6 separate regions of the Homo sapiens genome follow, and regions 2, 3, 4, 5 and 6 are each linked to region 1. The links come from fine-mapping of genetic effects on gene expression. A gene starts in region 1. Each other region holds a variant in brackets. All regions are shown on one strand. Distances are between the middles of the regions. Region 1 holds the start of MCUR1 (mitochondrial calcium uniporter regulator 1). Region 2 overlaps PHACTR1 (phosphatase and actin regulator 1). Region 3 has its middle 48 kb from the start of RANBP9. Region 4 overlaps MCUR1 (mitochondrial calcium uniporter regulator 1). Region 5 has its middle 45 kb from the start of MCUR1. Region 6 has its middle 39 kb from the start of MCUR1.

Region 1 (5,077 bases):
AATGGTTGGGAAACGCTCATTGGCTGGTTAATGGGCATACATGCTTCCTTAACTGTGTCTCTGCTCTCTTCTGTTTTTATGCATCCATACTCATTTTTTATGATGACTGAAGAATGAGATAGCTGACACTAAAACAACAGTACCACCTTACCGATTGGTCAGCAAATCCGTGAGAAAGAACACTCTCTTTTTGCCCTATACTCTTGCATTGAGAGAAAAACAAATTGGAAATTACTAGCTTGTCAGAAAAAGCGCAACAAAAGGCAAAATACAGAATAAAGACCAAACTCATCTCCGACTCCTAATTACTGAAGGACAGTGACACCGAGTTCACTACTCATTCCCCACTCTCTGTATATAAAGTTTCCTTCACTTTATTGCTCTACTAATCAGTTTTTACCCCAGCCAATGATATTCTTAAATTATAGATATGGTCAACATTTAGTGGGCCTATCTGTTGAAGAAAATATGAAAAATGTGTAGTTAGTGATGGCTACTAATGAATATGTATAGACTGCCCAAAGTGATAATTTTGCCAAGTCTGTTGATTATCAGAAATGATTTTTTTCTTTAATCAACAATATGCTATCTAATAAATTGATTCTATTTACTTTCCTCATCTCCAGGGCAGTGATCTCTCTCACCTCCTTTAAATAGTCATGAGCCCCACAACTACCTTTCAGCCCAGGACAGAGGGGCACACACGACAGTGGTCTATGAGACTATAATACATATTTTTACTCTACCTTTTCTACATTTAGATGCGCAAATACCATTGTGTTCAGATTGCCTCTAGTATTCAGTACGGTAACATGCTGTTCAGGTTTGTAGCCTAGGAGCACTAGCCTCTACCTGATAGTCTAGGTGTGTAGTAGGCTGTAGCATCCAGGTTTGTGTAAGCACACTCTACAATATTCACACAAGGAAGAAGTCGCCTAATGACTCATTTCTCAGTAGGCGACTGTCCTGAAGAGATGCATGACTCTAATTAAATGCTACCTTCTCAATGAAATCGATTCTGATCACCCTATTTAAATTCACAACTGGAGACCCATTCCACTTCCCAAGCCTTATCCTATTTTTCTATACCAGGCATCGAATTACGAATATATAAAAATTATTTGTATATATAAATTATATATACATCAATTATGCATACGTATATCCACACACACATATTTACTGCGTCTGCTCTGCTAGAATTAAGCTCCAGAGGGAAGATTTTGTGGACTGATATATCTCACACATCTAGAAAAGCGCCAGGGACAGGGCAGACGCTAGGACTCCACGAATTAATGATTCCATCAGAATTTGAAATCAAACTGTAAAGCAATCCCTTCATTTCCCAGAGCTTTGCTGCTCAAACATACACACCCCTTCCCCTTGAACGCCCAACAGGCTGGGCGCTGCCAAACAGAACTCCTGGAAGGCGGCGCCCAAAAGCAGACCCTAGGAGTGGGCGGGCACCAACTCCCCGCCCCAGCACGCACCTCCCTCCAACTTTAGCGCCCGGGATTCCCAGGAATTCGTCTCTTCTGGGCTAAGCCCCGCCACCGCGGCCGAGCAGGGCGGGCCCGGACCTTCGACCCACGCTCCGGGCAGATGCCGGTGGCCTTGGAGGACCCGCCCTCCGGCCTGCCGGGCCTTTCCTCGGGGAGGCTGTAGCTGAGATCCCCGCCCCGCCGTCCAACCCCGCGAGACGAGCCCCCTCTCCTCTCCCGCCCGGGCCTCACCTCTCCTGCAGGAAACGAGTGCAGGCGCCGGGCCGTGGTACTGGGGAAGGGCGCCGGCGGCAGCGGCGACGCCCGGTGAGCACCTCCACGCGCTGCTGCGCCCGGCCGGGGGTGCGGCATACCCGAGGCGCGAGCGCTCCCAGTCCCCGAGCTGCCGGCGCGGGGCTGCGGCGGCCAAGCGCGGGGAGGGCACTAGCAGGAGGAGGAGCAGCGGTGAGGCACGTGACACGCCGCCGCGGGCCGCCGGGGCGCGAGGGCGCAGCGCCCCCAGACCGTCGGAGAGCGCAGAGAGGCAGCGGCGTGCTGAGGTTTCGCTGCCGCCCGGTCTTCCGCTGAGGCCCACGGGCAAGAAGAGAAGCCGCTGGCGGCCGGGCAGGCGCTGGGTCCTCTGGCCGCCGACCGAGCCGCAGTCCATCCCCGAGCAGTTCACTGGCCCGGGCGCGCGCTCATGCCTCTCGCTTTTGGCGCCGGCCACGCGCGGTCCAGGCCCAGAGTCCGACAGCGGGAGCGAGCGTGGGCCACAGCGCAGGACCGCCCTTTCCTGCCGGGCGCGCGGGCGGGGCTCGGGACGCGCGCCGGGGGTGGGGTGGGGCGGGGCGGCAGGAGCCCGCCGTGGCGCTCCGAGATGCGGGGACCGTGCGAGCCCCCACCCCATTCGCTAGGCGACGGCGGCGACCGGGAGGAGCCTGCGGGCACTCCGGAACTGGAAGGAGCTTGTTGCTGTCACGATTTGCATTTTCACTGCACTGCTGTCCTTAAAAAGGAATTACCCCGGTGCCCTTCAGAGTCCTGTGAAAAGTCTCAGACCGACAGGCTGCCCTAGATTTCACTGATTATCCTAAGTCCCCAAACATGTGGTTCTGGGGAGCATTTTAAGGAATTATTAGCAGGGCCCAGGGAAAGGCCCTCACATAATACATTCAAAACTAAATTTTCAGAGTTTTTGTTTCCAGATTAGAGCACCAAAAACATGGGAAGGTAGCAATCTGGGAACTTAAAACGTGGGGCATGAATGTTAAAATGAGACCTGTCGGGTATATTTGAAACTGGTAATGTTTAGTTTCGTGGACTTTTTGAAGGCCTGTTACACCATTCACAGATAACTGGTCCCTTATGTGAATTTGGAAGATGTTAGTTGAATAAATAAATGAAATGCATAAGGCACCAAGCTAGGAGATTTTATTAAAAATAAAAAACCGCAAAACAAATTGTTCTTATCCTCCAGAAGCTGTTTTCCTATACAGCCATATGTGTACACATACGTGATGGAAGAATGTGTTATGAGCCATGAGAGATGTACAAAGTGCTGGGAAGAGAGGAGCGTGCATATGGATGTGCAAGATAAGTGTCTATCAAAATTTGAAGAACTGAAAAACAGGATTCAAGTCATAGGTTGGTGCAAAAGTAGTTGCGGCTTTTGCCATTGCAAGTAATGGCAAAAACCGCAATTACTTTTGCACCAACCTAAGACACTTTTGTAAAAGGAGTATACATTTATAAAATTGGTAGAAAAAGCAGTTTAGCAATGAGTATCAACAAAAATTTGTAAACTTTTCTCAAGTCACCTAACTAAAAATGGGGATAATGGGAATAATCCAAAATATTAAATATCTACTAGGTTTGACTATACAAACTTGTCATTTTTATGGGTCAAAATGCTTAATATTGGTAATTTCACATATGCACAAAAGATAGTCATTGTATCATAATTTGTGATTGTGAAAAAATGGGAAAATAGTGCACAACATTAGAGGAACGATTAAACTGTGGCACAAACTTTAATGTTAGTCCTTTGTAATTTTTAAAAATTGAGGTATAATTTGCATACAGTAAATTCCACAGACTTAGGTGACATTTAGCAGTTGATAAATGTCATTTAGCAACTTGATGACATTTAGCAGTTGTATATACCACCCAGTCAAGATCTAGAACATTTTCATTGCTCCAGAAAGTTATTTTGTGCCAGTTTTCCAGACAATCCACCACCACCCCAAGGCAACTATTTTCTCTTTTTTTTTTTGAGACGGAGTCTTGCTCTGTCACCCAGGCTGGAGTGCAGTGGTGCAGTCTCAGCTCACTGTGTCCTCTGCCTCCCGGGTTCAAGCAATTCTCCTGCCTCAGCCTCCTGAGTAGCTGGGATTACAGGTGTCTGCCACCACGCCTGGCTAATTTTTGTATTTTTAGTAGAGACGGGGTTTCACCATATTGGCCAAGCTGGTCTCGAACTCCTCACCTTGTGATCTGCCCGCCTCGGCCTCCCAACGTGCTAGGATTACAGGCGTGAGCCACCGCGCCCGGCCAACTATTTTCAAATTTCAATGACCATAGATTAGTTTTGTCTTTTTTTGAACTTCATGTAAATGGAGACCTACAATATGCATTGCCTTGTGTCTTTCTTCTGCTTTGCGTCTGACTTCAATATCAATGAGATTCATCCATGCTGTTGTATCAGTAATTAGTTGCTTTTAATTGTTGAATAGTATTCCATTGTATGACCATACCACAAGCGGTCATCCATTCTATTAATGGCCATTTGCTTTGCTTATAGTTTTTGGCTATTATGCATAGGGCGTTATGAACATTCTTGTATAAGACCTTGTGTGGACATAATTTTTATCCCTGTTGGGGAAAGTATCTGGGTCAAATTGCTGAATCATATGGTAGCTTAACTTTAGACACTGCTGAATTGTTTTTCCAAAGCGACTGCACCCTTTCACACTCTTAGCAATAGATGAGCGTTTCGGTTGTTCCACATCCTTGCCAAATTTTGATATTTTCAGTCCTCATAAAATGGTACCTTATTGTGATTTTTAACATAACATTTCCCTGATGCCTAATGATGTTGACTAACTTTTCATGTATTACTATTACCAGCCATATTGAATACAATAACATATGTAAAGCACTTAGCACAGTGCCTGGCCTATGATAGGAGTATAATGAATGTCAGTTCTAACTACAGGTTGGATAGCATCCACTTTTCCTTGGATGTGACACCTGTTGTTTTATTTTCCAAAGCATTCCCTTTCTTTTGGTCTCAGCACCCTAGTTTTCCATGGGCAGTGGCTCTTCTCTGCTCTCAGTCCATGCGGTTTGGAGAGACTGATCGCTCTGCAGACCACAGGCATGGGCATGTCACCCAATCAGAGTTAATGAGCAGCCGGGCGCGGTGGCTCACGCCTGTAATCCCAGCACTTTGGGAGGCCAAGGAGGGCGGATCACTTGAGGTCGGGAGTTGGAGACCAGTCTAGAGAAACCCCGTCTCTACTAAAAATACAAAATTAGCTGGGTGTGGTGGCACATGCCTGTAATCCCCGCTACTTGGGAGGCTGAGACAGGAGGAC
Region 2 (5,077 bases), 770 kb before region 1:
GGCGGATCACATGAGGCCAGGAGTTCAAGACCAGCCTGGACAACATGGTGAAACCTTGTCTCTGCTAAAAATACAAAAATTAGCCGAGTGTGGTAGTGCACGCCTGTTGTCCCAGCTACTCAGGAGGCTGAGGCATGAGAATGGCTTGAACCTGGGAGGTGGAGGTTGCAGTGAACTGAGATCATGTCACTGCACTCCAGCCTGGGTGACAGAGCAAAACCCTGTCTCAAAAAAAAAAAAAAAAAAAAAAAAAGGCAGTGCTGCTGCTTCAGCGTAGTGAGCTGACAGCCTACCTTACCTCCACTCTGATCTTTGGTTCCCATTCCTAGGGTGGTGAAATAAGGGAGGTATATAACCCCTTCTAATTACAAGCAAAAGCGAAGGTTATCAGATCCTGCAACATAAACGTTCTGTTATTGAGTTCACTTAGGGTTAAGAAACAAGAATCCAATTTATGAGAATCTTAGGTCCTCCAAAAACCCTAGGAGCATTTAGCACATGGGGAGATCTCCACTGGGGTCCCAAATGGGCTGCCCTCCTGCCTCTGGTGCTGACTCTGACTAGACATCAGATGGCACAGACACCATGCTTCCTTCATTCCAGGCTGCTCCCTGGGATACTGTATGACGAGCACTTTCTAGGCCAGCAGAAAGCCAAGGTGATGCCATCTTTGCACAAGCCTTTTGAAAGCCAAACCACCATGAGAAATATGGTGTACCTGAGGAGCGCCCCGAGCCCCGGCCCAGCTCCTCCCGCTGCATGCCCTAGGAGCCCACCAAGAGTAATCCCAGGTTGCCACCAGGGCTGGGGTTCAGAACACCATCTGGCCTAGGTACTTTGGTTCTTGTCATTAAAATCATGCATACATCAAATATTTTCTTTCTGGCCTGTCTAAGGAGAAAGAAAAATCATCTCCCAATCATTTCCACCCTATGGGTAAAACAAAACCCAGTTTTGTCATAAGTGGGAGCCCAAACTGTGTGGTCCTTCAAAGAGTGTTCTCTTGGATGGTAGAGCAGGAAAGACCCCAGGAGTTTGCTTGCCCATGGCTCTCTCCTCACTTCAGCCTTCTGAAGGAGCTCAGCTGCCCAGCTTCCAACGTTTTGATTCAACATGCTCAGTCCTGGCAGTTGACATTCAAGCTGATTCATGTGTGGCTCAGCATTTTCTCCAGACAGCATGAGGTAGCCACCTTTGAGCAGGCCAAAGTGAAGCTGTCTTTACATGCTCCATTTCCAAAAAAGGCTGTTTGTGATTCCAAAACATGGCAGGCCACGCCCTGCTCTCCCACTTGCCTTCATCCCTTTCTTTCTCTGGTTCCTGCAATGGGAGACCACTTTATCCTGAGACCTGTTTTTTGGTTTCCATTTCTTTGTGTGTGTGTGTGTGTGTGTGTGTGTGTGTGATGGAGTTTCACTTTTGTCACCTATGCTGGAGTGTAATGGTGCAATCTTAGCTCACCGCAACCTCTGCCTCCTGGGTTCAAGCAGTTCTCCTGCCTCAGCCTCAGTAGCTGGGATTACAGGCACATGCCACCACACCCAGCTTATTTTTCTGTTTTTAGTAGAGACAGGGTTTCACCATGTTGGCCAGGCTGGTCTTGAACTCCTGACCTCAGGTGATCCACCTGCCTTGGCCTCCCAAAGTGCTGGGATTATAGGCGTGAGCCACCGCACCAAGCCTTCCCTTCCTTTTCAAACTGTGTTCATAAGTTGGCTCACTCTTGAGCCATCCTCACACTTAAGCCTTCCAATATCATTATCTGATGGCAAAGCTAGCCCCATCATCAAATTAATTGGAGAAAAATGTAATGGGGTGATTAAAATATAAATCAGCTAAACCTAATGTGATCCAGTCTGCTCAATAATCTACTGAATTTAAGAGCTAAACATCATGAATTTCATAATAATACTTATTAAGGATTCATTTAACTATTGAGTTATAATTATACCTTTATAATACCCTGTGTTCCTTGCCACTCTTGGTTTTTCAAAGGCACTTCTAATTTCATATCATTATTTTAATGGGGCAATTTCAGAATAATTTGTATCCATTTCTTAAAGATGTGATTATGGAAAAGCGTTTCGGTTCTCATGGCACTTTTTTTTTTAAGACAAGTAACGATACATATTTTCATACCTCTGAAGATGTGAGCAAATGAACTGAATCAAATGCAGTTACCCAGTTATCTACTCAGTAAGTCATTATTGAGTGCCAACTATGAGAAGCAAACTCAGTATCAACCCTGAATAATTACTATCTTGATTTTTTAAAGGATTCTGTATATAATTTCTCTTTAACCTGTAGCAGATGTTTGATGTTGGCTGAACTCAGAGAATTCTCAAACTGAATATTTTAAAAACTTCACTTTTGTGTCTTAGGCTGTTTTGAGAATCAAAGAATGATAGGAAATCTTCCAACCAAATGCAGATACCCATCCCCTTGAAGCCCACTAGGATCCAGAGATCCCGGGATGAGTGCTTCTACCAGGAGTATTTCATTTTGGCTATAACACGTGTTTAGAGAAGTACTAGAAGATCATTCTGAGCAGCTTACTCAGGTTGAGAGTAATAAGTCAGGTTGTTTTAATATAAAAAATAGGTTATTTCATGGAGGAAAAAA[C/A]TTGAATAAGTGATTCTTGGCCTTGTCTGAAGGCCAGTACAGGAAATTAGAACTTCCTACTGTATGCTGTGGGGAGCCACCTGCAGTTCCTACAAGGAACAGGCTTCTAGTAAAAGTATCCAATACAGGTTTGAAGGCAGGAGAGTAAGTCTGGGAATATAGGTTTGGAGACTTGTAAAATGTGGACAAAAGCAACAAGACTATACACCAAGGTAAGGAATGAGGGGAAAGTGATGAGTATGAAAGAGGAAGTGACCTGTGAGAATCAGACCTCTGGACTATGGTGACTTTGCTTCTCTCCTGGACTCAGCACCTCTTTGCTGTGGTTTCCCACAATTATTACTACTTGTGTGGCTCTGCTGACATTGTTGAAGAAGCACCAATTCAAGCAGCTGATGCCTTTTAAAAAGCAGAATGCTCAAATTCAGTGTTACTTCTGAGGCTATTTACTTGCCTGATTTGATTTCTTTTTTTATTCCTTGTCGTAGCTGTGTTGTTGTTATTGTTACCACTCTCTTCAGCCATTCCACAACCCGTACTTAAAACCTTCTGAATCTTTTATCTTCCTCCTTTAGCCTCCAGTAATCTGTTATTTTACCACTGCTGCGAAATTAATCTCCCTGAGGCCCACATCTGATCTATGCCATTTGTGATCAGAGACCTCAGTTCAAACTTTCAATCACTCAGCATAAAATCTCCTGATCAGTAATACTTTTGTGCATTTTTGATCCCACTTCTTCGCCTTCCTAAGAACCATGTTTCATACATTTCTCAGCATTTTTTCTACATCTTCGATCTCTCACTTTCCCCTGGCTCTGGCAGCTCAGCCTACTGACCCCCAAATCAAGTCTCTCCTTCCTACCTTGGCAAATTTCCTCTCAATAGTTCTTCATTACCTCAGGAAATAAAGTTCTAACCCCTAAAAAGCCTTTGCAAAAATACTGAATTATCTGGCTGCAAAGTTCTTGTCCCCATTGAGCTGCCATCCTATTCTGCTTCTTCCTTTATCATCAAATTCTTTAAAACATGTAAAATCATCACATTGACCTAGTCATGAAAACTAAAAATGTTAGCCATTCTTGCTTCCTGGTACTTTCTCATGTTTATCCAGAGAGTTACCAAATCTGCTGATTCTCCCACCTGGCTGAATCCCATCTTTTCTTCCTATCCTTCTGTCATGCCCCTGCTTGAATCCTAGTTACTGTGATTGCAGTGTCCTCCTGATTGTTCTCGCTGTCAAGGATTTCCCCATATTCCGAGTCAGGTTACCTTTGCTGCTGCAAAGATATTCCTAAGAAACAAATCTAATTGCATCCTGATCACGTACCTTCTCGATCAGGCCGACCCCCCCATTCTACCCAAAGTACTCTTGATCTATTTTACCAGGTTCCACTCATTATTTTTTTCCCCAAAGCAAGTATCTTCTGGCATACTCTATAATTTATTTGGTTTCAGTGTTTGCTGTCTGCCCTTCACCCTACCTCTGCATGTGAGCTCTATGAGTTGGTATTTTTATTTGTTTTGTTTACCGTCATAGCCTAAGCATCTGGTACAGAGTGGGCATACAATACATTTTGGTTGAATGTGATAATACCAGTTTCCCATTTTCAAATTTTCCTTGTCCCTCTGCTCAGAGGATGAACCCCAAATGCCAATTCATTTCAAGAGCTTACATGATCTGGTTCCAGACCCTCCAACCCCTGTCTCTCTCCACTAGTGCTTCATCTCACCTAACGTCACTGAGGCTCACAGTTGACTGAGTTCCTTGAAGTCCCTAGATGTTCCATGCCTTCAGCCCTCTCTATTCCTGTTGGGTCTGTTTCTCCTCCCAGGGATCCGCTTCTCCCTCTTCCCCTTGCCAGGAGAACAGCCCCTTCTCTTTCAAAACTTAAGCCCAAAGTGACCTCCCTCGAGGTCTTCTCCAATGCTGTGAAGCAGAATTAGTTGCTCTCTCCTCTTCACTTACATTGAGTTTTATATTGTAGCTCTGTTGTGGTATGTTCTTACACACTGATCTCTCTGTCTCCTCCTTGGGACTCTGTGCTCAAGGCCAGTTTTCCTGTGTGTCTTCCCCAGAAATGATCATAGTATCTGGCAGAGATTTAAGTGGCCACTTAATCAAATGATTGAAAAGAGGAGCTCCCAGTGCACTGAACCAGGTAGTAAAGGTTTAAGTGCCCTGTTCATTGCAGCATGTCCAAATCATCACTGCCCTCACCCCTAAACCTGTGTCCTCGCCTGTCTTCCTTATCTCTATGAATGAAGGGTACCACTCTGCTGACCTGAATCTTGGAATTGCCAATGATCTGCCTCCAGTCCTTCTGGTCACTCAATCAGTCACTAAGTTCTTTTGACTTTACTTCTGACGTGTCTCTCAATTCCATCTACTTTCTTTCAGTCCTGCTGTGGGGAGCTCTTACTAGCTTATCACATCTGTCACCAATACAACTGCCAC
Region 3 (5,077 bases), 55 kb before region 1:
CTCTGTCTTGAAAGAGAAGAAAAAAAAAGAAAAAGAAAAAATTAGCCAGGCATGGTGGCACGTGCCTGTAGTCCCAGCTACTTGGGAGGCTGAGGCAGGAGAATCGCTTGAACCTGGGAGGTCCAGGTTGCAGTGAGCCGAAATGGTGCCACTGCATTCCAGCCTAGGTGACAGAGCAAGACTAGGTCTCAAAAAAAAAAAAGATATTTTGGGAGAGAGAGAGGCAGGGAGGAGAAAAGAGACTACATTCACATAACTTTTATTACAGTAGACTGTTTTAATTGTTCTAGTTTATTACCAGTTACTGTTAATTTCTTACTGTGCCTAATTTGTAAATTAAACTGTATCATGATTATGTATCTATGGGCAAAAACACAGTATATAGGGTTTGGTAATATCTGAGGTTTCAGGCCCACAGACCCACTGAGGGTCTTGGAAAGTATCCCCCACAGATAAGAGGGCACTTCTGTATATTGTGAAAACTACCAAATTCATATTTCAGCTGGGACTGCTCTTCTGAATGCCAGACTCATATCGTATCCAACTGCTGACTTGACATCTCCACCTGAACATTTAACAAGGCATCTCAAATTTAACATGTCCACAATGAAAGTCAGATTCTACCTTGCAAAACAGGCTCTTTCCAAAGTGTGAATAACGGCTTCCCAAAGATGTCCACATCCGAATCCCCAGAACTTGTGCATGCTACCATACAGGGCAAAAGGGACTTTGCAGATGTGAGAAAATTAAAGATCTTGAGAATGAGGAGATGCTGCTGGATTATGTGGGAGGGACCAATGTCATCACAAGGGTCCTTATAAGAGAGAGGGAGGAGGATCAGAGTCAGAAAGAGAAAGGAGATGTGACAGCTGAACCAGAGGCTGGAATGACGTACTCTGAAGATGGAGAAGAGGCCATGAGCCAGGAGATGCAGGCAGCCTCTAGATGCTGGAAAAGACAAGGAAATGGATTCTCCCTTGAAGCCTCCAGAAGGAACACAGCCCTGCCAACCCCTCGACTTTATCATTTATTTATTTATTTGTTTATTTATTTATTTATTTATTTTTGAGACACAGTCTCCCTCTGTTGCCCAGGCTGCAGTGTACTGGCATGATCTCAGCTCACTGCAACCTCCACCTCCCAGGTTCAATTATAGGCCTGCTCCACCACACCTAGCTAATTTTTTTTTTTTTGTATTTTTTGTAGAGACAGGGTTTCACCATGTTGGCAGGCTTGTCTTGACCTCAGGTGATCTCAGGTGATCCACCTGCCTTGGCCTCCCACAGTGCTGGGATTACAGGCACAAACCAAGCCACCACACCCAGACTCAACCCCTTGACTTTAGGCTTCTGACCTCCAGGACTGTAAGAGAGCATACTAGTGTTGTTTTAAGCCACTAAGGTTGTGATAGTTTGTTATGGTGGCAATAGGAAACCCATACACAAGCTTCCCCGTGTCAGTAAATGGTGACACCAGCCTTTTAGTTACTCCAGAGAGACACTGGTGTTGTCCTCATTTTTTTCTCCTTCTCACACCCCAAATCCAATTCATCAGCAAATCCTATTGGCTCTGTCTTCAAAATATATCCAGAATCCAACAACTGTTCACACCCGCCACCAGCTACACACTGGTCTCCTTTTTCATGGAGGACTACAGGCACCCCCTAGTGAGCCTGCGTGCTTCCCCCTCGCCCGTCTGCGGTCTATTCCACACAGCTGCCAGCGTGATCAGGTTAACCCAGAAGCCAGACTTTAGCATTCCTCTGTCATACCCTTCGATGGCTCCCCACCTCATGAGGAAGAGAAGGCCATGTCTTTACCATGGCCCACAGTGGCTCCCCCAGTCTGGCTCCTGGACACCTCCCTGAGCTCATCTTCTGTCCCTGCCTCCTGGCTCAAGCTCCAATCCCACCAGCAGGTGCTGCCTAGAGCGTCCTTCAGGAGCTGAGGCGTGCTCCTGGCTGCCACCCCTCGGATGCTGAGGTGGCCTTGGCTGGAGAGCGCTGTCCCCCTCAACACCCTATCTCACTCCCTTCTCAACGTAGCCAGTATCCAGTGGCTGAATGGTTTGGAGGTGTAAAGGCCTGTCCCCTCTCCCCAGCTCAGAGCAGCTCTGAAGGGCCATCCTATCTTCAACATCCCCATGGGGTTGTCTGGGGCTTTAGTTGAGACTGCATCACAGCTCATCCCCCTCTGCCCAGTCTTGCTTCCTGCCCCTCTTTCCCTTCCATGGTTTGATCCCAAGAGCACTTCCTAGTAAGCATCATATGTGTGCCAACCATCATCTCAGACACTGCTTTCCCTGACCTGTGAACCTGATCTCTTTGCTATACCAAAACACCCCAAGTACCCTTGATCTCAAAGCTTCTGCGGTAAGTGTTCCTTCCGCCCGCAAAGCTCTTCTCCCAGGTATTCAGGAAGTTTACCCTCTCCCTTCCTTCAAGTCTCTGCTCAAATGTCCCATGGCCTGTGGCCTTCCCTCACTACCTTATGTAAAATAGCAAACACCACCACCGTCACCAGCACGACGAACTCCATTATGCA[GC/G]TTTTTTCCCTATAGTATTTAACCTAATTAGATATATATTTCCTTGTTTATTCATCTTCTCTCACTATACTCCAGTTTCACGAAGGCAGATACTTGATCTACTTTGTTCATGGCTACTTCCATAATAACTAGAATAGTGCCTGCCACATAGTAGAGGCTTAGTACCGAGTCAGGCTGGTGCTGGTCTTGCTGTGACCTGATTCCAGTAATTGGCTCACCACCATAGCCCCTGTGATGAAAGTTTCGCCTTGAAGCTTTTCATCTTGACCCCTTTGATACCTTTGATTCTGTGTCAATGCCATCATGGCTTCCTTTATATCCTCCACAACTAAAGGCCCACCTGTGTTTTCCTCAGTCTTTCTAAAGTCCTACCCTGTGGCTTAGTCCCTCCATACCTGCCCTTAAGCTGGAGGAACCCCACCTCTCAGGCTCCAGGTGCACTTGTGTGGTGGATTACCGAAACTCTCCCACTCCAAGTCCCCATTCTCATCAACGTCCCTCCAGGGTCTGGCCAGGCTCCCTAAAAGCCCTGTCCAAACTATGAGCCACACCTTGACCTTCAGCATCAAAGAGGGCTTTACTGCAGGGGAGGAAGCTCCCATAAGAGCCAGAACGACCTGGGTGTGAGTCCCAGCTCTGGCATGTACCAGTGGGGCAGCCTTGGCAGGTCACTCACTTCCCTGAGCAATGGCTTACTCCCTGGTAAAGTTAAGTCAATGATGTCAGCCTCGCAGAGTGGCTGTGCAACAAGACATGAACATGTATGAAAACAGTCAGTAAATTTCTCCCGACTGAACTGAAATCCTCTGAAGCACCTGCCCTGTTGTGTTAAATGGAAAAGTGTGGTGTCCTTAGGAAGAAACTCTGACACTAGGTAGCTCTATGTGCAAAAGAATTTGCTGTGGGAAACCTTTCAGTACAACATGAAGTTCCATGATAATTCCAAACATATGTGAACGATATATAAGCTGTGTAGCAAAATCATATTGTCAGCCAAGTATACTAGGTCTAGGCATGATCTCAAGGATGGGAAAAGTTTGGCTTCACCTCTGAAAGGTAACCCTCAACCAAGAGGTAGCACAAAAGCATAATCGGTGGATGCGTTTCCCTCCCCCATCCATGCCTTGCCCAGATTTAATGGAAACATTTATACTAAACCTTGCCAAATTCACAGAAGTTTTTCCAGTTCCCATTACTTTGCTATTCAAAAGGAAGGGAGTAATCGCTTCAGAGGTAGGGTGTGGTACAGTACACTTAACAGAGTGCTGAAAGCAAGTTCAACACAGATGACCAATGTTGCCAGATTGCACAATTCTCGAGTTATTTTCGTGATGGGCAATGTTTTTCCTTTTTATTCCGTTTTCCTCCCTCTGGAGTTGGCTAATGATTTCCAGTGAATAGAACTCTGTCCAGTACAATCCAGTTAGCCCACAATGAACAGACTGTCAATGAGAGATGCTGCATTGACAGCCTTTATTTTAGTGGGCTCCCCGTATAGTAAAGATGGAAAAGGAACTGCTGTTGGGGGCATTCATTTGTAATTTGTGCTCTTGGTCTGGAAGTGGGCCATTAGCTCAGCAAAGATAATACAGAAACATACAATAAGGTCACCACTCTTTCTGAAGCCTGATCCATCATCTCTTGGAGAATCAATACCTGTATAGACACGTTATGAATGTGTTTAGTCTTTTCCTACGTGACCAGGTAGGAAGCTTCCTGGTCCAACCTGGGTGGGTGCTTCATGTTGGCTTGGCAGGTAGTGTCAGGCATCTGGAGATACAATACACATGTTTAGCTCCCTGCAATCAGCAGGCTGGTACATTCACTACCAGCTGCATTTTCTCTGTGATACTGCCGGAAAGAATGTGCTTAAAGTCACTATTGATTACTCTTTAATCCACACTATGTTAGGAGCAAAATTGAATCCGACAAGACATGGTATCTCTTTTCCACATACTTTGTGCATTCCAATAAAGAGGGCTGTCCTTGAGAGTATGAAGTGTGTATCCAAGAAGCCAGGCAGATTCCTTCGTATTCAGCCCACGGATTGTTCAGAGATTCCCAATTTCCTCCTGGGGAGTTGGGTGCAGGAGTCAAGAGAGATATTTGAGTCAGGGAATATTTCCCAAGAGGAGCCTTAGTATTTAAACATCCATTTTCTTTCTTTCTTTCTCTTTCTTTCTTTCTTTCTTTCTTTCTTTCTTTCTTTCCTTTCTTTCTTTCTTTCTTTCTTTCTTTCTTTCTTTCTTTCTCTTTCTCTCTTTCTTTCTTTTTTTTTTTTTTTGAGACAGAGTTTCACTCTTGTTCCCAGGCTGTAGTGCAATGGGCGTGATCTCAGCTCACTGCAACCTCCACCTCCTGGGTTCAAGCGATTCTCCTGTCTCAGCCTCCTGAGTAGCTGGGATTACAGGCGCCCGACAACAGGCCCGGCTAATTTTTGTATTTTTAATAGAGACGGGGTTTCACCATGGTGGTCAGGCTGGTCTTGAACTCCTGACCCCAGGTGATCCGCCTGCCTCAGCCCCCCAAAGTG
Region 4 (5,077 bases), 27 kb before region 1:
AAATAAAAAACTCAAGGCAAAGAAAAGGTTTTTAGTTTGTTCCCCTACCACTGATGTGAAATGGGGACCTAGGGGAGATGTGGAAGGATGACTAAAATCTAACACATTGCCCACCATTTTTGAACTTGAAGGTTGAGTTTGCAAATCATTTACCGCCTTTGCCTACCTCATCTGCTAGTTGCCTTCTGGAAATTTTGCAGTTCCCCCTCAAGTCTAGTTATTTGATTCTAACTTTGGTACAAGATTTCTGGTTGGAGAAAATGAGATGTAACTGAAATTTCCAGGCTACCATTCATTCATTCACTTTAGATACAGGGTCTTGCTTTGTGGTCCAGGTTAGTCTCGAACTCCTGGCCTCAAGTGATCCTCCTGCCTTGGCCTCCCAAAGAGCTGGGATTACAGATGTGAGCCACCGTGCCCAGACCTGTATTTCATTTACCCCCTTTTCTGAGATGTTCCTTTCCTCTCCTCCTGAGCAGGTATTAATTACACTGAAGATCAACCCACACAGGCTGACTCAAGAAGAGCTCAATTTTTTGGAGGTGGGGAATTTGCTCAACAGGCCCTCAGGGAAGGTGAAGTGTGCATCCCTCTGAGGACCCTTCTGCTTCCTGTGACCCCAGCTGCTTGCTTTAGATATTTCCTTCCCAAGATTTTTCAGGGTGGAGCTCACTAATCATTAAGCTGTAAGGGGATGTACTGGGTGTTTCCTGCAGACACACAGGCTCTCTGTGCTTGAAGAAGTAGGTCTAGGAGGATTATGCCCTCCAGAGAAGAAGCAAAGGTAAGAGGTGCAGAGGGGAGTTCTCACAATGGCATTTTTTTGGTCCTTCCTGAACCTTGGTTACATAAGCCAAAAAAGGATATTCTTTTTTCTGCTCAAGCTAGCCTGATTTGGATTTCCATGAATCCTTATAGCTATTTTTATTTTATTTTGAGACAGGGTCTGGCTCTGTCACCCAGGCTGGAGTGCAGTGGCACAACCACAGCTCACTGCAGCCTCTACCTCCTGGGCTCAAGCCATCCTCCCATCTCAGCCTCCTGAGTAGCTAGGACTACAGGTGTGTGCCACCACATCCGGCTAATTTTTCTATTTTCTGTAGAGACAGGGTTTCACCATGTTAGCCAGGCTGGTCTCGAACTCCAGGACTCAAGTGACCCACCCGCCTTGGCCTCTCACAGTACTGGGATTACAGACAAGACCAACCGTGCCCGGCCAGATATTTTTTAAAATTGTGTATTTCTCAGCCAGGTGCAGTGGCTCATGCCTGTAGTACCAGCACTTGGGAGGCTGAGGCAGGAGGATGGCTTAAGCCTAGAAGTTTGAGACCAGCCTGGGCAACATAGTGAGACACCATCTCTGCAAAGAATAGAAAAAAAATTAGCTGGGTGTGGTGGCGCATGCCCGTGGTCCCAGCTACTTGGGTCCCAGGCTGAGGTGGGAGGATCGCTTGAGCCTGGGAGGTCGAGGCTGCCATGAGCAGTGACTGCGCCAATGCACTCCATCCAGCCTAGGCAATAGTAGTATCTTGTCTCAAAAGAAAAAAAAAAAAGAAAATTGTCTATTTCTAAAAACCTGTATTTAAACCTCATCATTTCCCCTCAAACAAGTAGCTTGTATAAAATTACTCATAACATGAACATGCTAAAGAAATTCTTTTGAATGATGAAAAGTTACTTTGTACATTATATTAAAATTTATTTTCTATGTATACCCAAATTTTCAAGTATTAGATTTACTTAGAAATTCACCAGTGTTATCATTATACAATTGGCTGGAATTAACAGTTGCAATACAGTTATTCTAGCTTTTCATATTCAATTTGAATGATCAGAAAAGTATATTAGTCACACAGAATTAAATATTTTAGATAGTAAGAATCTTACACTTTATTAGATAATAAAACATAATTGATATTTGCTTAAGTAACAAAAAAGTTAAGAAATTGGGTTATAAGCAAAGGAACATAAGTGTAAAATGTGTAGAAAGATAAATATTTTCCAAATAAAATTCTAATAAAAGGCTAAACATTCTCAAATATTTTACATACATGAAGAATAAATTATTTCTGGTTAACATGTTTTTGCCTTAGTGCCAAAAAAGCCAGAACAAATTTGATAAGCTCACATTAAAATCAAAGTTTTCTAGATATGAATTCTATATACCATCTCTATATTTGTTTAGAATTTTGCAAAA[T/C]TCTTAGAAGATTGCATGTTAGGGTGGGGGAAGATAAATGCTTGCCAATACTGACATGGTTAATTAACAGACAGGCTTGAAAGGAGAAGGCTAGAAGAGGGAAGATTATGTCACTAAGCATAGCTACAAAAGGAAAAGCCACATGGAAGCAGAGACAAAGGCAATCCCGACACACAGAGGCATGTTTGTTGCGGCTCAGGGTTTCTGTTTTTCAAGTGTTCAGAGACGAATTCCAGCAAGACTTCTGGTTTGAGTCAAGCCTTTCAACCGAGGTGCTTGGCATACTTAACGGAAAAAGCGAGTACATTCAGATTTAGTTTTGCTAGATATTAAACTAGAAAACTGGATGACAGTAAAACCAATACAGAAACAAAAAGTCATGTTTCCAGTAAAGAACCGTACACACAAGCAGGTTTTGCTTATTAATGTAGCAGGAGAGCATGGAAATCGGAGTTCAGACTCTTTAGAAAAGACAAAAGGCAGGGGAGGGGAGAGAAGAAAAGGAGGAATGCAGAGAAGCCCTCCAAGAATGATGAGTGATTCGTGCAGGAGAGGGAAATACAGACGTTCCGTCCATGTGAGATTCTGCTTCAGGTATTGGACATCGTTCCCTCCACCTGCACCTAGAGGATATGTGTTCAGGATCTCGCTATGGTTAGTTACCCATGTGCTAGACATAGGTTGCTAGCTAGAAGTTTTGCCAGCCATCTTCCCCCCTCCTAGTGCTAATGCCTAATTTCCTAAAGTAATCTGAATCCTTATAAGCCAGGGTAGCTCAGGAGGTTCTATTTACTTATTTATTTATTTTGAGACAGAGTCTCACTGTGTCGCCCAGGCAGATCTCGTCTGGGCCCGAGTCTCGTTGCAGTGGTGTAATCTCTGCTCACTGCAACCTCTGCCTCCCAGGTTCATGCAATTTTCCTGTCTCAGCCTCCCGAGTAGCTAGGATTACAGGGGTGTGCCACCACGCCTGGCTAATTTTTCTATTTTTAGTAGCGAGAGCATTTCGTCATGTTGGCCAGTCTGGTCTCCAACTCCTGACCTCAGGTGATCTGCCTGCCTTGGCCTCCCAAAGTGCTGGGATTATAGGCATGAGCCACCGCACCCAGCATCAGTAAGTTTTAATATTACGTCTAGTCGGCTCACGGGTGCTTGAGCCAGAAGTGGGAAGGGTACACTTGTATTTTGGGCTCAAATGGTTTTCAAATAAAATACATCTGACCAAATAAAGTGAACACAGTCCTGAGCCCTCCTCTCTCCAGATATGCATGCAATCCACACCATCAAAAGAAGAGTTCACTGTTCCCAAGGCCAAGAAGAGGCTATGCTGTACTGCAAAGAACTCTATAGCAAAATCGAACACCCAAATTAAGTGCCAGAATGATGCAGCCCGCTCTCACCAGGAAGAACGACATGTGAGAAAACTTATAGCAGATGCAAAAATGTCAACCCACCATGTTATTTAAAAAAAAATTTTATCAGGATACAAGGACACTTCACTGTTTTTAACCCACACAAGGTTAGGTAATGTTTACCTTGAAACATAATCGCATATGGCCCTTTATGCCACTCACCTAGGCCTTTAATAATGAGGGCAATTGCTAAGTGTGCTGTCTCTTCTGGGGACTTCTCTCTGAAAGGGGGATGATATATTGATAAAATATTTTATTAATCAGTTAAGAATTTTTGATCTACTTGAAAAAGATTAAATTATAATATTTCACTTTGAAACTGCTATTGCTCATGCAAAAGTACTTGATTTTCATACTATATGGAGCTCACAATCTTTGGACTACACAAACATTCTCTAAAAGGGCAATGACTTATATTTTCCAAAGTTTAGACATGACATCCAAAGGACAAAAGGTAACTATTTTTTTTACCAATGTGGTTGGAACAGTGACAACGAGCAATGTATTCACCAAACTGATCAAAAAATCTGCCTGTGGTTCCTTCACTGTATGTGTGTGCAGAGAAAGGCAGAAAAGCTTCTATCCATGTCATTGTCTCTCTTGCCCATGTGCCAGTAATTTGAATAAGATGAGAATGGGCCAGGCGCAGCGGCTCACGCCTGTAATCCCACTACTTTGGGAGACCAAGGCGGGTGAATCACGAGGTCAGGAGTTAGAGACCAGCCTGGCCAACATGGTGAAACCTCATCTCTACTAAAAATACAAAAATTAGCTGGGCGTGGTGGTGGGCACCTGTAATCCCAGCTACTCAGGAGACTGAGGCAGGAGAATCGCTTGAACCCAGGAGGCAGAGGTTGCAGTGAGCAGAGATCACGACAATGCACTCCAGCCCTGCGACAGTGCGAGACTCCGTCTCAAAAAAAAAAAAAAGGTGAGAATGTGCTTTTCCAGAATAACCCCAGTTGTATCTAGAATTTGTTTTCAATATAAAGGCAGGTATGAGAATGTTTTGAACAACAGAATTAATCCATCTAGATTAGAATGCTGTGTGGCATGACCATTCTCGAATTTTGAAAGCCTGAGCTGGTTGTGGGCAAGGGGATATTCATTAATGACATAAATTTCATTTATGAAATATGTATCCATCATCTAGGTATCTTATACATGGAGAGCTGACTGCATCCCTTGTATAAAAAGTAAATGAAGACCGGAAGGAAGCAGACTTTGTCCTGCAAACTGAAGCAAAGTTCCATGCTAAGAATCAGCAGGTTTTCTAGGTAGGTAATGCCACCAGTGGAGGATTATTACAGTTCTCAAATCATGAGGGAAAGAGATGGAGAAGAGGGAGGGAGGAGGGAAAATCTTGCATTCTAAGAGGTAAGAGTCCCCATTACAATTGCAATGCTTCTTTAGACAGCTGATTTTTCTGGCTGGAAGGCACATTAAAAATAACCCTAACAATAACTTA
Region 5 (5,077 bases), 45 kb after region 1:
ATCTTGGCTTACTGCAACCTCGACTTCCCAAGTTCAAGGGATTCTCCTGCCTCAGCCTCCCAAGTAGCTGAGACTACAGGTGTGCACCACTGCACCCAGCTAATTTTTGTATTCTTTTTAGAGATGGGGTTTCACCATATTGGCGAGGCTGGTCTCGAACTCCGGACCTCGTGATCCACCTGCCTCAGCCTCCCAAAGTGCTGGGATTACAGGTGTGAGCCACCACGCCGGCCCCAAGAACTTGCATTTTTGACAAGTTTTAACGTGCTGACATTGCTATGTGGGGACTGCACTTTGAGAACCACTGTTCTGAAGCACTTGTCTGTTTTCTTTATTTGTAATGATTTTTTTGTTTGTTTCTTTTTGAGATGGAGTCTCACTTGGCCGTCCAGGCTAGAGTGCAGTGGTGCAGTCTTGGCTCACTGCAACCTCCTTCTCCTGGGTTGAAGCAATTCTCCCTGCCTCAGCCTCCTGAATAGCTGGGATTACAGGTGCCTGCCACCATGCCTGGCTAATTTTTGTATTTTTTTAGTAGAGATGGGGTTTCACCATGTTGGCCAGGCTGGTCTTGAACTCCTGACCTCAGTTGATCCACCTGCCTGGGCCTCCCAAACTGCTGGAATTACAGGCGTGAGCCACCACACCCGGCCTGTAATGATTTTTGATACCCTTTTAATTGAAAACTGAAGCAATTGGCAAAGCCTAAATGCATGCTATTTTATACTCTTTTGTAAAATGTTACTTTTGACTGACTATCCGAACCTGTGATTCTACTGGTAATAACTCTACCAAGTTACAAGATGCTTTTTTTTGTATGGCTCTACATTTCTCCCAATGGACTTTTCACCCATTTGTGTTGGCGTAAGAAATACATTTGTATAAGTCAGCAGCTGTATCTTGTGTTTTGTTTAGGGAATTGTGGATAATATTAACTTTAATATACATTTCTGTATTGCCAGTTCATCAAAAAGGAGGCTTGCGATTGTTCCCTGTTTATTTAAAAATTGACATTTTAGGTTTCATTTCTGCATAGTAGATGTTGCTTCCTTAATGGTTATGTTAAAATTCATTTCTATTTTAAAAACTTGACCATATGATGTTTCCAGGAAGTATAAACCTTATCAAACATCTGTTCTAATTTTTCTTGGTAAAATCATTGCTGTTGCATTAACATTCAATAAGATTTTTGCATTCATACTGTGAAAAGTTTTTTAAATCAAAGTTTTGAGTGTTATTGTTAATCCAAACAGCCTAAGAACTTTTATTATCTTTCACTAATTCAAAGAAGATTTTTTTGCACAGTGCCTCTATTAGTCTGGAAAATTCAGTTTCATAGAAATTGAAGCTATAAAGGGAATATTAACTTGTTCAGAATTTAAATTCTTTGATATAGTGTCTGAATTTCTTGGGATGGAATTTGTGGCAATCTCAAGAATTCACACAGTAGGTAAAAAACGTGTATTTTGAACAATGCCAAAATAAATGGGTATGTCTGGTGCTTGCTTACTGCCTTTTTACTTAAGAAATTTGAGATTCTGAATCAGGTGGTGTATGTTGTCTTTCTCTTAGGCCTGCTTTTATGCATGAATATACTCAATTTATTGTATTATTCTACCATAGCCCTGCCTGTAACATTTTGAAATCTTCTAATCATTACAATTAACGTGTCCCCCAAATGAATGTAATTCCCAAAGTTGAATCATACTCTCTAACAGCAAAATCAAGAAATGGTTTCTTTATATTTTGTTTATTTCCTTTTTCAAAAAATTGGATCAATGGGATGTATTTGCATTCTAAACTCAGTTAATTATTTTGAAAAATATTTTGAGTTAAACAATGAAAGCAAAATATGGAAGTTCCTTAATTTCTCTAGTTATTTTATTAAAGTTGGCCAAACCATTCAATAATTTAATTTTGCATTTTAGGACTTAGCTATGTTATAAATCCAAAAGCTGCTCAATGCTTACATCATATTCTATTGAAAGCTTTGTGTTCAATAAATACTTTTACACATTAAAACTTTCGAAAAGCCTTATTGGAGTGTGTAAAGTTACAAAAACAACAAGTGCCTGTTAAGCGATAGGGGGTTTATAATTCAAGTTCAAGATATCCTACTTTAATTTTGCTCTTGTGAAGTATGTTCTCTGTGCTAAAAAACCATATATTTATATCCTGTAGTTATTAAAACGTAAAAAAATGGAAAGATGCTAATCTTATCGCTTTATAGTTTGATTTGTTCACAACATTATATCATGGACAGATTAATCTTCAGGTTAAAGAGTTTTGCTGTAAGGGCACGGAAAAATGAGATGGAAGCTAGAGAGGTAAGATATTTCTTTCTTCTGAAGAAGCTATAAAATGAATATTTTAA[A/AT]ATATATTTTAAGTGAATGCTTCAAGTCATTGTCAGCATATTAAGTTGGGTCAACTTAGAGGCGAGATATTTCTGAAATAACTAATATTTTGGAAATACTTCATTAACTCTATAAGCGTTATTTTATACTATGTTGTTTTGTACTTGTGAATACTGTGAGATTATTTTCACTATATCTCAATCTTAAATGATTCAGCAGTGCAATTCATTTTCTATGGGTGTTTTGGCCACTAAATAACATTTCCAATTTGAAGATTCTTTACCTCCTGATGTTTTTTGGATTAGGAATCTATGTTGCTTAAAATAAAACACGAAATTATTGTTTTGTCAGTACTAAGATATATAGACATATTTGTAACTGATGGTGAAGCATAGCTAATTTTCAGATTTTTTGAAATTTTCATTTTCAGAATTTTGGTTGCATCATATTTTGTTTACATGCCTTCTCTTATAGAGCTGCAAAAACTCCCTATATTAAATAGATTAGCCCTTTTTCCTGTGTCTTGCAAATGTTTTTATACTTTATTATTTGTGTTGGTTTTGATGGATGAAATTTACATTTTATGTAGTCAAATTGAGAGGTGACAGCATGCTGGCATCTCTCGCAGCCCTCGTTAGCTCTCGGTGCCTCCTCGGCCTCAGCGCCCATTCTGACTGCGCTTGAGGAGCCCTTCAGCCCGCCGCTGCACCGTGGGTGCCCTTCTCTGGGCTGGCCGAGGCCGGAGCCGGCTCCCTCGGCTTGCGGGGAGGTGTGGAGAGAAAAGCACGGGCGGAAACCGGGGCTGCGGGAGGCGCTTGCCTTGAGGAGCCCTTCAGCCCGCCGCTGCACCGTGAGTGCCCTTCTCCGGGCTGGCCGAGGCCGGAGCCGGCTCCCTCGGCTTGCGGGGAGGTGTGGAGGGAAAGGCAGGGGCGGGAGCCGGGGCTGCGGGAGGCGCTTGCGGGCCAGATAGAGTTCGGAGTGGGCGTGGGCTCGGCGGGCCCCGCACTCGGAGTGGCTGGCTGGCCGGCCCTGCCACCCCGGGCAGTGAGGGGCTTAGCACCCAGGCCAGCAGCTACGAAGGGTGCGCCGGGGTCCCCCAGCAGCGCTGCCCCACCGGTGCTGCGTTCGATTTCTCGCCGGGCTTTAGTTGCCTCCCCGCAGGGCAGGGCTCCGGACCTGCAGCCCGCCATGCCTTGAGTCCCACCCCGCCTTCGCTGTTGGCTCCTGCACGGCCTGAACCTCCATGAACGAACGGCGCCCCCTACTCCACCGCGCCCGGTCCCATCGACCCCGAAGGGCTGAGATCGCGGGCCCGCAAGCCGCGGGACTATCAGGCAGCTCTACCTGCGGCCCCAGTGGGAGATCCACTGGGTTAGACAAGCTGGGTTCATGAGTCTAGTGGGGACTTGGAGAACCTTTGTGTCTAGCTAAGGGATTGTGAGTGCACCAATCAGCACTCTGTGTCTAGCTCCAGGTTTGTGAACACACCAATCAGCACCCTCTGTCTAGCTCAGGGTTTGTGGATGCACCAATCGGCACTCTGTATCTAGCTAATCTGGTGGGGACTTGGAGAATCTTTATGTCTAGCTAAGGGATTGTGAATGCACCAATTGGCATTCTGTATCTAGCTCAAGGTTTGTAAATGCACCAATCAGCCCTCTGTGTCTAGCTCAGGATTTGTAAATACACCAATCCACACTCTGTATCTAACTTTTGTGTGTAGCTCAGGGATTGTAAACACACCAATCGGCACCCTGTCAAAACAGACCAATCAGCTCTCTGTAAAACTGGCCAATGGGCTCTCTGTAAAATGGACCAATCAGCAGGATGTGGGTGGGGCCATATAAGAGAATAAAAGCAGGGTGCCTGAGTCAGCAGTGGTAAGCCAGTCAGGTTGTTTCCTGGGGATGTGGAGGGTTTGTTGTTTTACAGGGGTTGTTGTTTTACTCTATAATTAAAGTTTATAATTCAGTTTTTTGAGTTTTGTGAGTTGCAACAGTCGTTGATTAAAAATGTGCGGTTTCATTCCCGAAGTTGATGAGCGTATTAACGCACCGGGGAAAATCAGTAACTCCAGATGTGGGGCATCAAGAGCTGTTATACTCCCTGAGTAAGGGTTGTGGTTTCATTTCTGAGTTGGTGATGATCGTGAACCCAGCAAAAGGAAGAAAGTGATTACATCCAAACGTGAGCAGGAGGAAACTCGGAACATACTGTTTTTAAGAACTAGTATCACTAGAGTTTGCAGCTTTAAAGTCTAGACTAAGAACGCACGAATTCTGGACACAGTTTATCGGTCTTCTCTCGTGGATACTGGGTCTCACCTCAAACATGTCTCTTGAGTGGGGCACAGTGGCTCATGAGTGTAATCCCAGCACTTTGCGAGGCTAAGGGGGGAGGGTCACTTGAGTCCAAGAGCTGGAAACCGACCACACAAATAGTGAGATGCGAACAAAACAACACCTAGCCAGGTGTGGTTGCATGGCATGGGCACGTAGTCCCAGCTATTTGGGAGGCTGAGGTGAGATGATTGCTTGAGCCCAGAAGATTGAGACTGCAGTGAGCTGTGATTGCATCACTGCAGCCCACCCCGGGTGACAGAGCAAGACTCTGTCTCAAAAGGAAAAGGCCTCTTCTTTAAGCTAATTCACTAAAGTTTTTACTTAAGTTTTCTTTTTCATAGTTTCATTTTTAATGTTTACTTCTTTGATTCGTTTGGATTTTTA
Region 6 (4,522 bases), 39 kb before region 1:
TGGGTCTACATTGCTTTTTTGAGCTTTAATAGTCACTACAAAAATCTGCATCTTCACTCATAAGGCAGCGAGACCACGAACGCACCAGAAAGAAAAAACTCCAAACACATGTAAACATCAGAAGGAATAAGCTCCTGACGCGCCACCTTCAGAGCTGTAACACACCGCGAGGGTACGTGGCTTCATTCATAATTTCAATGAGATCAAGAACCTACCAGTTCCAGACATACTAGCGCTTTGGGAGACCAAGGCAGGCGGATTTCTTGAGTCCAGGAGTTCATAGACCAGCCTGGGGAACATGGCAACACTATCTACAAAAAAATACGAAAACTAGCTAGACATGGTAGTGCGTGCTTGTAGTCTCAGCTATATGAAGGGCTGAGGTAGGAGAATGGCTTGAGCATGAGGAGGCAGAGGTTGCAGTGAACTGAGATTGCACCACTGCACTCTGGGTGACAAGTGAGACCCTGTCTCAAAAACAAGGGTACTGAATCAAACAAGTATTTAAGGCCTAAACTCAGGGTGACTCTGAGACCCAAACAGTGGGCTCCATGTCAACATCAACCCCTTTATACGAAGATTCCCCAATAAAAATATAAATATTCACAATCACCCTGGGGTCTGCATGGAAGATTGATGTATAACACTTGAGAGCTTACGGATATGTCCATGGGTTACCTACGTTGTTTTAATACCTACTACAGTCTGTACCCTAGATACTCGAAGAAGAATGTTCTTTTACTAGGATACTGCATCTTAGTAAATTCACCTTAGTACCCTGGGGTGGTTGCCAGGGAGGGTACTAACAGAAGTTTGCTTGTTTGGTGGTTGGGCAAGTAATATTACTAGTAATTACTAGCAAAGGATTCCAGTTATTGCATGCAGACTACACATTTTATATGTAGGTATGGGGTTTTACTATTTATTTATTTATTTAGAGATGGAGTCTCACTCTGTTGCCCAGGCTGGAGTGCAGCGGAATGATCTCGTCTCAGGGCAACCTCCGCCTCCCAGGTTCAGGTTGTTCTCCTGCCTCAGTCTCCCGAGTAGCTGAGATTACAGGCACCTGCCACCATGCCCGACTAATTTTTTTGTATTTTTAGTAGAGACGGGGTTTAACCATCTTGGCCAGGTTGGTCTTGAACTCTTGACCTGTGATCCACCTGCCTCGGCCTCTCAAAGTGCTGGAATTACAGGCGTGAGCCACTGCACCTGGCCAGGGTTTTATTGTTTAGAAAATATTTTCATGTATTTGACCTCATTTGATCCTTACCACATGTGGTCAGCCAGGTAGGGTATCTATTCCCTGGAATCAGAATGCTTCGGTTTGACTCTGACGTCACCATTTATTAGCTATGTGTTCTTGGGCAAGTTACTTCAACTTTTTTATTACTATTTTTTTTTTTTTTTTTTTTTTTTTTTTGAGTCAGAGTCTCACTCTGTCACCCAGGCTGGAGTGCAGTGGCACAATTTCGGCTCACTGCAACCTCCACCTCCTGGATTCAGGTGATTCTCCTGCCTCAGCCTCCTGAGTAACTGGGATTATAAGTGCACGCCACTGTGCCTGGCTAATTTTAATATTTTTAGTAGAGACAGGATTTTGCCATGTTAGCCAGACTGGTCTTGAATTCCTGACTTCAGATGATCCACCTGCCTCGGCCTCCCAAAGTGCTGGGATTACAGGCATGAGCTACCACGCCAGGCCCACTTTTTTCTTTCTTTCTTTCTTT[C/CTT]TTTTTTTTTTTTAAATAAATAGAGATGGAGTTTCCCTATGTTGCCCAGGCTGGTCTCAAACTTCTGGGCTCAAGGGATCCTCCCAACTTCACCTCCCAAGATGTTGGGATTATAGGTGTGAGCCACCTCATCCAGTCTACTGAAACTTTCTATACCTCAGTATCTTCATCTGCAAAATAGAGATCACTGTAGTACTTACTTCATAGGGATGTGATGAAGATTAAATGAGATTGTGATTACTTTAAAACTATGCCTGGGCCGGGCGCGGTGGCTCACGCCTGTAATTCCAGCACTTTGGGAGGCTGAGGCGGGTGGATCACAAGGTCAGGAGTTCGAGACTAGGCTGGCCAACATGGTGAAACCGTGTCTGTACTAAAAATACAAAAAAAAAAAAAAAAAAAAAATTAGCCAGGCATCGTGGGAGGCACTTGTAATTCCAGCTCTTGGGAGGCTGGGGTAGGAGAATTGCTCGAACCCGGGAGGCGGACATTGCAGTGAGCTGAGATCAGCCACTGCATTCCAGTCTGGGTGACAGAGCAAGACTCTGTCTCGGAAAAACAAACAAACAAACAAAAAAACTATGTCTGGAGGCCAGGTGTAGTGGCTCATGCTTGTAATCCCAGCACTTTGAGAGGCCAAGGCAGGCAGATAGCTTGAGCTAAGGAGTTTGAGACCAGCCTGCGCAACATGGCGAAACTCCTTTTCCACCAAAAAATACAAAAAATTTGCCGGGTGTGGTGGTACATGCCTATAGTCCCAGCTACTTGGGAGGCTGAGGTGGGAGGATTGCTTGAGCCTGGGAGGTGGAGGCTGCAGTGACCTGAGATCTCTCCACTCTAGCCTGGGTGACAGAGCGAGACCCCAACCCCCACCAAAACAAAAAACAAACAAAAAACTACAGCTGGAATACAGTAAATAAATGCTCTATAAGCATTCCTATTATAATTATTGTTGTTGTTGTTTTCGAAACATAAGGACTAAGGTGCTCTGGACTGAATTTGTGTTCCCCCAAATTCCTGTGTTGAAACCCTGCTCCCTAGTGTGATGGTATGAGGAGGTGAGGAGGTCATAGGCATGGAGCCCTCATGATAGGATTAGTGCCCTTATAAGAAGAGACTCTAGGCCGGGCGCGGTGGCTCACGCCTGTAATCCCAGCACTTTGGGAGGCCGAGGCAGGCAGATCACAAGGTCAGGAGATCGAGACCATCCTGGCTAACACGGTGAAACCCCATCTCTACTAAAAATACAAAAAATTAGCCGGGCGTGATGGCGGGCGCCTGTAGTCCCAGCTACTCGGGAGGCTGAGGCAGGAGAATGGCGTGAACCCGGGAGGCGGAGCTTGCAGTGAGCCGAGATCGCGCCCCAGCACTCCAGCCTGGGCGACAGAGCAAGACTCCGTCTCAAAAAAAAAAAAAAGAAGAGACTCTAGAGAGCTTGTTTCCTCCGTCTCTCCACTCTGTGTGAGGACACAGCAAGAAAACAGCCATTTGTGAACCAGGAAGTGGGCTCTCACCAGACACCAGATCTGCCAGCCAGTACCATGATTTCAGACCTCCCAGCCTCCAGAATTGTGAGAGAGAAACGTTTGTTGTTGAAGCCGCCCAGTCTACGGTATTCTGTAATAGCAGTCCGGACTGACTAAGACTTAGGCTTGGCAAGGTCAAATGGTTTTCCCAAGAGTGCAACAAGTGGCAAGGTGGGGAGCTACGGCCAGGGCTCCTGACTCATAGTATTCTTACTGGTCAAATATCTGCCTGTAAAAACTGGTTTTTAGCAACCGTAACAAGATATCGTGCTGCTAAAACGAAATAATCATGGTTTTGTTAAGTCTCAGGAAAAAGGTAATAGGTACGGTTTTCTCCATCTTAAATGTTTTCCCATGGAGTTCTAAGCTTTGGAGATTTGCTACTGCTTGCCTACTAGCACTTGCTGGTGCTTACAACCAAGCAAAGGCATTCACATACATTTTTTCTTTCTTTCTTTTTTTTTTTTTTTTGAGATGGAGTTTCGCTCTTGTTGCCCAGGCTGGAATGCAATGGCGCAACCTTGGCTCACTGCAACCTCCACCTCCCAGGTTCAAGCAATTCTCCTGCCTTAGCCTCCCAAGTAACTGGGATTACAGGCATCTGCCACCATGCCCAGCTAATTTTTGTATTTTTAGTAGAGACGGGGTTTCACCATGTTGGCCAGGCTGGTCTCGAAGTCCTGACCTCAGGTGATCTGCCTGTCTCAGCCTCCCAAAGTGCTGGGATTACAGGCGTGAGTCACCGCGCCCAGCCCACATACATTTCTTTCTTTCTTTCTGTTTTTTTGTTTGTTTTGAGACAGGGTCCTGTTCTGTCATCCAGGCTGGAGTGCAGTGGCATGATCAGAGCTCACTGTAGCCTTGACCTCCTGGACTTGAGTGATCCTCCTGCCTGAGCCTCCTGCCTGCGTCATCACACCCAGCTAATTTTTTTTTTTTTTTTTTGAGAAGGAGTCTCGCTCCGTCCTCCAGGCTGGAGTGTAGTGGCGTGATCTCAGGTCACTGCAAGCTCCGTGTCCCGGGTTCACGCCATTCTCCTGCCTCAGCCTCCCACGTAGCTGGGACTACAGGCGCCTGCCACCATGCCTGGCTAATTTTTTGTATTTAATTTTTGTATTTTTTAGAGGTGGGGTTTCACCATGTTGTCCAGGCTCATTCACATAAATATTAATAGGGAAAGCTCAAAAAATTAATTCATGACTGCCTATAACCCCTGCCTCCCTGCCTTAAAAACCCTTACCTATATGCCTCAGATCTTAAGCATAA

Evidence for each region. PIP is the estimated chance that this variant, and not a neighbour inherited with it, causes the effect.
Region 2: its variant is the best candidate, but not a certain one, in a credible set for the expression of MCUR1 in spinal cord (GTEx, PIP 0.76).
Region 3: its variant is the best candidate, but not a certain one, in a credible set for the expression of MCUR1 in fibroblasts (GTEx, PIP 0.82).
Region 4: its variant is the best candidate, but not a certain one, in a credible set for the expression of MCUR1 in cerebral cortex (GTEx, PIP 0.83).
Region 5: its variant is the best candidate, but not a certain one, in a credible set for the expression of MCUR1 in whole blood (INTERVAL, PIP 0.69).
Region 6: its variant is the best candidate, but not a certain one, in a credible set for the expression of MCUR1 in monocytes (Quach 2016, PIP 0.62).

The regions. Positions count from the first base shown.
Region 1 is chr6:13,812,282-13,817,358 of GRCh38, forward strand. MCUR1 (mitochondrial calcium uniporter regulator 1) reads right to left here and starts at 2,276. Exons shown (of 9, transcript NM_001031713.4): 1 at 1,734-2,276. The coding sequence starts at 2,148. It overlaps LOC107986571 (a long non-coding RNA gene), which reads left to right and starts at 1,529. Exons shown (of 2, transcript XR_001743986.3): 1 at 1,529-1,808. RefSeq lists silencers at 1,464-2,133, 2,214-2,483 and an enhancer at 2,644-2,743.
Region 2 is chr6:13,047,150-13,052,226 of GRCh38, forward strand. The region is part of intron 4 of PHACTR1 (phosphatase and actin regulator 1); the gene reads left to right. Among named protein-coding and RNA genes, the nearest start is that of TBC1D7, 280 kb to the right of the region's middle. The variant C/A (reference allele first, on the strand shown) is at 2,623.
Region 3 is chr6:13,757,292-13,762,368 of GRCh38, forward strand. No RefSeq gene overlaps it. Among named protein-coding and RNA genes, the nearest start is that of RANBP9, 48 kb to the left of the region's middle. The variant GC/G (reference allele first, on the strand shown) is at 2,544.
Region 4 is chr6:13,784,875-13,789,951 of GRCh38, forward strand. MCUR1 (mitochondrial calcium uniporter regulator 1) reads right to left here. Exons shown (of 9, transcript NM_001031713.4): 9 at 1,683-5,077. Among named protein-coding and RNA genes, the nearest start is that of MCUR1, 27 kb to the right of the region's middle. RefSeq lists an enhancer at 2,778-3,610 and a silencer at 4,279-4,447. The variant T/C (reference allele first, on the strand shown) is at 2,198.
Region 5 is chr6:13,856,867-13,861,943 of GRCh38, forward strand. No RefSeq gene overlaps it. Among named protein-coding and RNA genes, the nearest start is that of MCUR1, 45 kb to the left of the region's middle. The variant A/AT (reference allele first, on the strand shown) is at 2,372.
Region 6 is chr6:13,773,394-13,777,915 of GRCh38, forward strand. No RefSeq gene overlaps it. Among named protein-coding and RNA genes, the nearest start is that of MCUR1, 39 kb to the right of the region's middle. The variant C/CTT (reference allele first, on the strand shown) is at 1,731.